Regions from separate parts of the Homo sapiens genome. Here region 1 is linked to region 2. Evidence: fine-mapped expression QTL. A gene starts in region 2. The other region holds a variant in brackets. All regions are shown on one strand. Distances are between the middles of the regions. Region 1 has its middle 15 kb from the start of PLEKHS1. Region 2 holds the start of DCLRE1A (DNA cross-link repair 1A).

Region 1 (4,392 bases), 120 kb before region 2:
TTCCTCATCTACATATGAAGATGGTAATGTGAAAATTAATGAGATAATGTACATGAAATGCTTAGTACAATGCCTGGCACAAAGTTGTAACCGAAAGAGGATCTGGCTGCTCACCACTTACAGAAAGAAGCCAAAATAACAAGAACAAGGTGTGATCAAAGGAGAGTGAATTTTATTATCCAATGCCAACAAGGGGAAAAGGTCAGAATCCTTTCTGAAAATTGCCACCTTTTCAGTTTCTGGAGAGTGGGCAATGGTTTAAGAATAGAGGCTTGGAATACAGGGAGGGGGAGGGGCTCGGAGGTGCCAGGTGGCATGTTTCACTCCGATGGCTTATCTTAAATTATTGCTCCAACTGGCGAAGGGGCCAGCACCATCTTGGGCCCAACCAGCTTACAAATTAATTGCAGTCAATTGTGCAGTTAATGTCTCGCTGGGAGTGAACTCCGTCCTTGAAGTCATCTCCCGCTAGGGGGAGAGTTCCAGAGATGCCTCGTCCATGTCAGGATTCGGCCCCTGAAGCTTCTAAGGAAATACATGACCAGATAAGTGGGCATGGTGTGAGCTTAACAAGAATCTAGGTAAATAACTGTGCATAGGCATGGGAGCATAAGGTGGAAAAGGAAAGGAAAAAAGTTCTTAAAACAGTTTGAAACTAAGCTGCTCAGTTACAAAGTAATCGACAAGTAGTAGATATCAAAGATGATGGTGATGAATGATGATGATGACGATGACATGAGGCTCATGGAGGGGCAAGAACGGAAGATGCCCCCCTGGATGCCTCACTTGCTCTTTCTGCCTCCAGGTCTCTTCCTTAGTCATGCTTTTCAGTCTATGCTTTCAACCTGAGGTCTCCCAGAAGTGAAGGGATTAGATCAGCGACTGCTTTATTTAGCAAACATTCAGAGTCCTACTAGATGCCAGATGTCATATTAGGGATGGGGCTAGAAAGATGACCAAGAAAGGATGCTTATACCAAAGGAGGTGAACAAATCACTCTAGGGCTTAGTGGCTGTAACACAGTCATGTGTACATTACCCAGGAATACAGAGGGGGTGCATCCTGCCTGGGGATTCCAAGAGAGGTTCCAAAGGAACTGTTTTCATCATCTTCCATTCCAGCCTCCAAAAAAGGCTGAAGGGAAGGTGGTGGAGAGGAAATTAAGGTTAGCAGGTAGAAGATGGCCTGAGAATTCCTGGAAGATCGGTTTAGGAAGGAAATCACTATGTCCCACTGCATCCTCATTGCAAATCAATAGGTCTAGGGTGGAGACCAGGAATCTGCATGTTTAACCAACCTGCCTAGATATTCTGAGGCAGGTGGTCCTCAGACAACATGGATTATTCTGATACCAAAAGACTCCCTTGCAGATCTGCAGGAGTGGCAGCAAAGCCCAAATTAAACAGCTGGAAAAGATCACCCAGGGGCCAGCAGCGCATTGGCTGTTCAAAGACCTGGCTAGCCATCCTATCCCCAGATTGAATAGCAAAGGATTCAGGGCATAAATGAGTTCAGTACTGGAGCATTCTTGTCCAGAAACTTCCAGAGGCTGCACAGGAATGCCAAGCCCTTGTTGGCCAGGCAGGTTTGAGGAAGACTGTGAAGTGTGAGGGAGGGGTGGATCAGCAGACAGCTTTCACTGAATGGGTCCAGGTGCACTGACTTCTCCAGCTGGTGTCAGCAGGCACACGTCTTTCTCTTCCTCTCGATTGCATCACTTAGGCAATCATTTCTAGACAAGATGGGCCACTCATGTATTCCCTCTCCTCCAGTGCCTCATAGGTGCCACAATGCAAAATGCTCCCCTTAACAACATTTTGAGGTTGACATTTTTAAAGGAACTTTTCTCTACAGCACCTTTTGTAATTAACTAGATTAATGTTAAGTAGGGAAGGGAACACAGAATTCTCAAGTGAATGTGGTTTTTAAAAATATATTAGGATATAGGACCCATTCTCAACCGCTTAGGAAAATCAGCTTTTGCAAATTATCTTTTCTGAAGCTTCCAGCTGCCTTAAGTGCTGACAGTTTTTAAGCACTGAGATGAAAGAGACAAATTCTTTTTCTTTTGTGTTACTAATTACAATTTTGCTTGGCATAATGTAGCCTGCTTTCCTCTTGAGACATTTGCCAGCATACATTAATTGCACAAATATTTACAGAGGGCTAAAGCACAGGAGAAGCTTATACCAAAAAAGATACTGAACACTTGGAAAAAAGCCTCTTTGACACATATTTGTGGCCAGCTACCCAGAATCGTATAAACTATTTGCCCCTTAGCCTCAGCAAATGTGTTTAAAGAGCAAGTCCCTGGGTTGACTTAGTGTTGACTTTGCTGGCAATGACTGCTGAAATCTTTCTTCAAGAGCCTTGTGGTGACACTTTTTTTTTCAGGGTTAAAAATAAGGTTTCCAAGAATATGCATGCATCTTATGGGTTGCTATATTGTCAACACTTTTTATCTCTCTAGCCACCCACATGGAATGGAAAAGGTTTATCCAATGATTGTTCCAAACCCCAGGAGTTGCAGAAAGCCAAATTGAGCAAGTCTGGAAAACTTGAATGGCTAAGCCACAAGGTCCTCAATACCATCTTCTTGTTTTCCTAGCATGCTAATTAAGAAAAAAAAGGCCCTGGTGTCAGATAGCCCCAGGTTCAAATCCCAACTTCGGCACT[T/C]CCAAGCTATATGACCTTGAGGAGTCTCTTAATCTCTCCAAACCTTTCTTCTTTCATCCTCAAATAGAATTAGTCCTATGTGAGTACCTAGGAAATAATACCTACCTCCACAGGTCTTGTGCCCACCTCACAGGGATGTTAGGTGGAGCCAGGGAAATAACACACAGAAATGGCTTTGCAAAACTCCCCAAAAATCTAAAATCAAATAAGGAGACATTTCCTTTGTTGGATGTTGTTATGAAAACTAAGACATCAAGCAAAAGTCAAGTAAATGTTGGGTTGTGTTTTTTAAACCAGCTTGATCTTATCAATAATTGAGGCCACAGAAAGGAGATTAGGATGAAGAAAAGAAAAAAGGACATGCAAATGATGCTGACATACAGAAGAGGTTCTTTCTGAGGATAACGGCTACCCATGCAGTGGAGAGGAAGAACGTCTTCCAAAAGCGGATGTAGTCAAGCTGCTGGAGATCATAGGCAGGAAAGAGAAGGGCATAAGACGCTGGCCTGAGCTTTAGAAGAGGACACATTTCATATGTAGAGTTGCCATATGAAATAGAAGATGCCCAGTTAAATTGGAATTTCAGCTAGAACAACCATTTTTTAATATATATATCCCAAAATATTGCACAAAATATACTAAAAACTTATTTGTTATCTAAAATTTCAATTTAAATGGGTGTCCGGTGTGGGTGGGTTTTTTGTTGTTTTTTGTTTTGAGGCAGTCTAGCTCTGCTGCCCAGGCTGAAGCGCTGTGGCACAATCTCGGCTCACTGCAACCTCCACCTCCCGGGTTCAAACGATTCTCCTGCCTCAGCCTGCCCAACTAGCTGAGATTACAGGCGTGCACCACCATGCCTGGCTAGGGTTATTTTTTGTTGTATTTCTTTGTTTTCCTAAGTTTGGCAGCCCTAGCCTAACTCTGTAGACCATTGCTCTAGCTCCATTGCCTCATCTTAACCCTGAATGCCCACCTCACAGTGATGTTGGGAGGAGCCAGGGAAATAACACACAAAAATGGCTTTGCAAACTCCCAAAAAAATCTAAAATCAAGTAAGGAGACATTTCCTTTGGTGGGTGTTCTTATGAAAACTGAGTCATCAAGCAAAAGGCAAGTCTTTGTGAATTTAGGAAGTATGGAAAATTTCAAGGAGTCTATGGAGTTTAGTTTTTGTTTTTTTGTTTTGTTTTGTTTTGTTTTTGTTTTTGTTTTTGTTTTAGATAAAGTAGCCCAGCTCTGTAGCCCAGGCTGGAGTGCAATGGAGTGATTTTGGCTCACTGCAACCTCCACCTTCCGGATTCAAACGATTCTCCTGCCTCAGCCTCCCGAGTAGCTGGGATTACAGGCATGGGCCACCATGCCCGGCTAATTTTTGTAGTTTTAGTAGAGACGGGATTTCACCATGTTGGTCAGGCTGGTCTCGAACTCCTGACCTCAGGCGATCCACCTGCCTTGGCCTCCCAAAGTGCTGAGATTACAGGCATGAGTCACCATGTCCAACTAGTGGAGTTGATTCTTAAGAGGAGTTCTAAAGACTCTAATGAGAGGGACTAGATGTGATGACTGTCAACACTAGCAACACCTTAGAGTCACCTGGAGAGGTTTCCAATCTCAATGCCCAGGCAGCACCCCAGACCAACTAAATCAGGATCTCTCAGGCTGGCACCCGGGAAGCAGTGTTGTTAAACCTTTCCAGGAGATTCCCATTTGCAGCCA
Region 2 (4,392 bases):
TCTACTAAAAATACAAAAAATTAGCCGGGTGCGGTGGCGGGCGCCTGTAGTCCCGGCTACTCGGGAAGCTGAGGCAGGAGAATGGCATGAACCTAGGAAGCGGAGCTTGCAGTGAGCCAAGATAGCGCCACTGCACTCCAATCTGGGCAACAGAGAGAGACTCCGTCTCAAAAAAATAAATAACCAATTGGACAAGTTATCTGACTTTTAAGAACTTTCATCTATAAAATGTCAATACTAGCTACCTTATATGGTGATTGTGAAAGTTGGGTAAGTAGACAGTGTGAAAGTACCCAGCATAGTAAGGATTCAGTTAACATTTATGGAAAATAATCCAGATACTTAGGAACTTTTATGAAATAACACAATGTATTTAAACTGTTTTCTAGTCTGCCATTTGCTTTACAATTATACCGTTGACTGGTATGGTGTTTCCCAGTGTCTCATCTCTCTTTTAGGTTACTGCTTGCCTTCCTTGTTTCACTGAATTGGTATGTCTGACCTAATGAAGACTTTTTAGATTATTTAGAAACTACTACGTTTTCTGCAGTCTTACCTGTTTCAGAGCGTGGTGGAGAATCCAAACATTCAAAAACATGCCATCGAGGTGTCTGCCCTATCAATGAGGAAAAAGGCATCTGGCAATTTGGACAGTATCCATCATAAACTGGACGTATCTTTGGGGACACGTGTTGGCTTTTTTGAGTTCTACAGAGTTTTCCTGGAGTAGTTTCCTTGTCTTGGGTCTGCTGAATACCATCTCCACAACTTGAATTCTGACTAGAAGCAACAGAAGTCTGACAACCTGCATTTCCAAGGGGCACTTCATGGTCCTTCACCTCTTTAGCTTCTGCGGCTCTTTTTCTGTTTCTACTCCGTTTTGACTGGTATTTTCCATCTGTTGCTTTTTCAACAGATTTTAGAATATTTTTAGAGCCATTATTTGGATCAACTCGTTTTGGTTTTCTTTTAGATTTGTATTCCCAAATGTCTTCTTCGGAAATGTCTTCTAACATGGCAAAATGATTTTATCATTCAAGAAGTATTAATCTTAAGTAAACTGAAAGTCCATTTCTTGTCACAAACAAAAAGTTATAGAATTATTTTGCTGAGAAAAAAAACAAAGGTAACAAAACCCCCACCAACTCAATGGGAATCTGCAGTGTTGGTAATGAACATATTGGCAAGCTACAAACCTTGTACCTGACAACACCTGCTATTCCATTTATACCACAATGAAACTAAGATAAACCTATCACAGGAGTAGCAACTGTGAAGTTCTCCATTATGGGTGCTATTTCATTCAAATATCTTGTCCTTTTCCAGGGCTTGATTCATAAAAATAATACTTCAAAAATTAAGCGCTAATGGCAAATATAGGTTCAACAGCTTAATCTTAGAACGAGATTTGTAACATTGTTATGAAGCTACTGTCAGTTCTTTCAAGTGGACAACCGTCCAAATAATTCATAAATCCAACCACAGTCCCTGGACAAAGGGCTTAACAGGTATCCCAAACACTAAATGACTATCTAACAAAACTAGTCACAACATAATCAAAGAGATGTGTAATTCGCAAAAAACTGCGAAGTCACTGCCCTCATCCACGACTAGTGGATACTCAACCACTTCAGTTTCCCGCGACAGTCCATGATCTTCCTCCAGCAGCAATGAACAATCCCTGCACAGTGAACAAAAAAAGTTGATATGTGAAAAAAGTTCAAATATGTGAAAGAGTGGGCTTGTATTGAGGTCTGACTCCGTATTGCACCCATGGTTCCGAAGGTGGCCAGCCCTCTGTCCACCTGACTCAAAACGGGGTCACACGCCAGCCTCTCCCTTATCTTTTGGCATTAGAGGCTGGGAGGCCAGGAAGCGGGGCCTTAATCATCTCCAGGTTAAGCATAGCGAGCTCCAAAAAGCCCTCAGAGTCCTGCCCTTCTGAAGACTCTAAGGCCCGCCCTCAAGGACCCTCACCGCCCCCCACCTGCCACTCGGCACCCCAAGGGAGCCGCTCCAGCTGCATCCGCTCCTCCCGGCACCCCCATCTAAAAATGTGTTCGCGCCCGCACTTTCAGCACTCCCAGATGACAAAACGCTGTGTTTGTGTATAAGTGAAAGCCACTCGCGCCAGTCACTTCCAGTTTACAAAGCCTTCTCTCTGGAGGTTATCCCTACCCGCTTTACCTTTAGGGTCTTGGCGGGAACAAGTTCCCGCTGCCAGTGCCGTGTCGAATCGGCGGATGCTGTTCAAAGAGAGAGACTTTAAAAATAATTTTTAAAAATACATTGCCCTTTTAAGTCCTACGGATTTATTGTATTTTATTTGTGTTCGAAAGTCCGCTAATTCCCAATGTGGAGGGTTGGGGATGTTTCCCTTAGCGCCTCTGGGACGCTGTCCCTAAGGCCTTATTCCATGTTGAATCTGACGCTCTCAATGTCCAGGCTCGGCTGCGGCGTGGGGACCGAAAAGGGGCGGGGTGGGTCGGACGGCAGTTTAATTACGTCCCCGGGAACTGCGCCGATTTGGACTTTTGGCACTTGGACCTATGCTTTAAAAAGAAAAAAGTGTCATTGGCGTGGAGTGGGGCTAGTGGAGGGTGAGGTGAATGCGCCGTTTGGAAACCACAGGACAGTGAACGTTTCGTCTCTCCCAGCGAGACTCTCCCGCGGGCCCGGCGGCCGCATCGGGAGCCCGGCGGAAACATGGCGGCGCCCGGAGGCCGGGGCCGCAGCCTCTCCGGCCTGCTCCCCGCGCAGACCTCGCTAGAGTACGCCCTGCTCGACGCCGTTACCCAGCAGGAGAAGGACAGCCTGGTCTACCAGTATCTGCAGAAGGTGGACGGCTGGGAGCAGGACTTGTCAGTACCCGAGTTTCCGGAAGGTGAGGGGCTGGCGTCGGGGTGGGGGCCCCTCCCGGCACCTCCCCTTCCTCGGGGACGGCGCCCTCCCGCGAAGCGGTGGGCTAGGCGGGTTTGTGCCGCTGGCGCCCCGGGGAGTGGCCCTTCGCCTAACTTGGGCCGCTGTTCGCGTGTTCTGCAATTCCCAGGGGTCCCCAAGCGGCCACCGACGGGGGTTTCCCTGGCACGGGGATCCACATACTCGTCTGTGTATCCTGAGTTCCGCCCGCGCCTGATATTAGCCAAGTGGACACTCCGTGAATATTTAGTGTCCCCGGTGGCAATGATTGCAACGTCCACACCATTCTGTCCATTCAATCTGGTTCCCCAGTGTCTTCTGGTCATCTTTCTGCATCATCTTGACATTTATTGATCACTTTTTCATGTATCACACACAGGGTTTTTTTTTGTTTTTTTTTGATACGGAGTCTCGCTCTGTCTCCCAGGCTGGAGTACAGTGGCGTGATCTTGGCTCACTGCAACCTCCGCCTCCCAGGTTCAGGCGATTCACCTGCCTCAGCCTCCGGAGTAGCTGGGACTACAGGCCCGCGCCACCACGCCTGGCTAGTTGTTTTGTTTTGTTTTGTTTTGTTTTGTTTTGTTTGTATTTTTAGTAGAGACGGCGTTTCACTATGTTGGCCAGGCTGGTCTCGACCTCCTGATTTCAAGTGATCCTCCCGCCTCCGTTTCCCAAAGTGCTGGGATTACAGGCGTGAGCCACCGCGCCCGGCCTGCCACACACAGTCCTAAACACTTGAGGGGATACCTAAACACTTGAGGAGATATTACCTTATTCAATTACCTCTATATCCCAGTGAGGTGCTCCTATCATTCCCCTTTCACAGTTGAGGAAATGGAAGCACAGAGAGGTTAAGTCACATGCCCAGGGCCTCACAGCTGATAACTGCCCCAGTTGGATTATACAGGCCCTGGATTTGCTGGTTTCTTAGCTGTACTGTGCTTCTCCGTTCAAAGTCGTGAAACTAATACTTTTAAAAATCGGAATCAATTATAGCCTATTTCCAGGGTTTAAATCCTGGCCATGTGAGCTTTTGGAGCATGAAGGAACAGATATTCCCGGCAGGGATGTTTGTGAAGCATATCTTGCCATGATAAATGAAAACGTATTTTACCTTCTTTGGATGGGAGTAGCATTGCTTTGCCTGATGGTGCTGGCATGTGTCCTGGCGTGACACTGAAACCACATGTATAGTTAATTGGTTGGATGTGGCAGAATTCAGTTATCTCATGGGAGGTATATCGGAACCTGCCTCCGACAACAGAGTATTGGTGTCTTTCCAAGTCTTTTGCACTACTCACCTTGAGAAGTGCTTATTTTTCCTGCTATTAATCTTATACTGGATTTGAAATATTGTGGAATTCTTACAAAAGAATTGGGTACATGAATGCTTATCCCATCAAACTTTAAAAGATTGTTTACATCTATACAAATATATGATTTTAAAAAGTTTTGGTGCAGAAGGTAGTTATA

Evidence for each region. PIP is the estimated chance that this variant, and not a neighbour inherited with it, causes the effect.
Region 1: its variant is the best candidate, but not a certain one, in a credible set for the expression of DCLRE1A in lung (TOPMed, PIP 0.70).

What each region holds. Positions count from the first base shown.
Region 1 is chr10:113,734,431-113,738,822 of GRCh38, forward strand. No RefSeq gene overlaps it. Among named protein-coding and RNA genes, the nearest start is that of PLEKHS1, 15 kb to the right of the region's middle. The variant T/C (reference allele first, on the strand shown) is at 2,677.
Region 2 is chr10:113,852,167-113,856,558 of GRCh38, forward strand. It overlaps DCLRE1A (DNA cross-link repair 1A), which reads right to left and starts at 1,916. Exons shown (of 9, transcript NM_014881.5): 1 at 557-1,916. The coding sequence starts at 1,016. NHLRC2 (NHL repeat containing 2) reads left to right here and starts at 2,495. Exons shown (of 11, transcript NM_198514.4): 1 at 2,495-2,884. The coding sequence starts at 2,707. RefSeq lists a silencer at 2,605-2,964 and an enhancer at 2,975-3,679.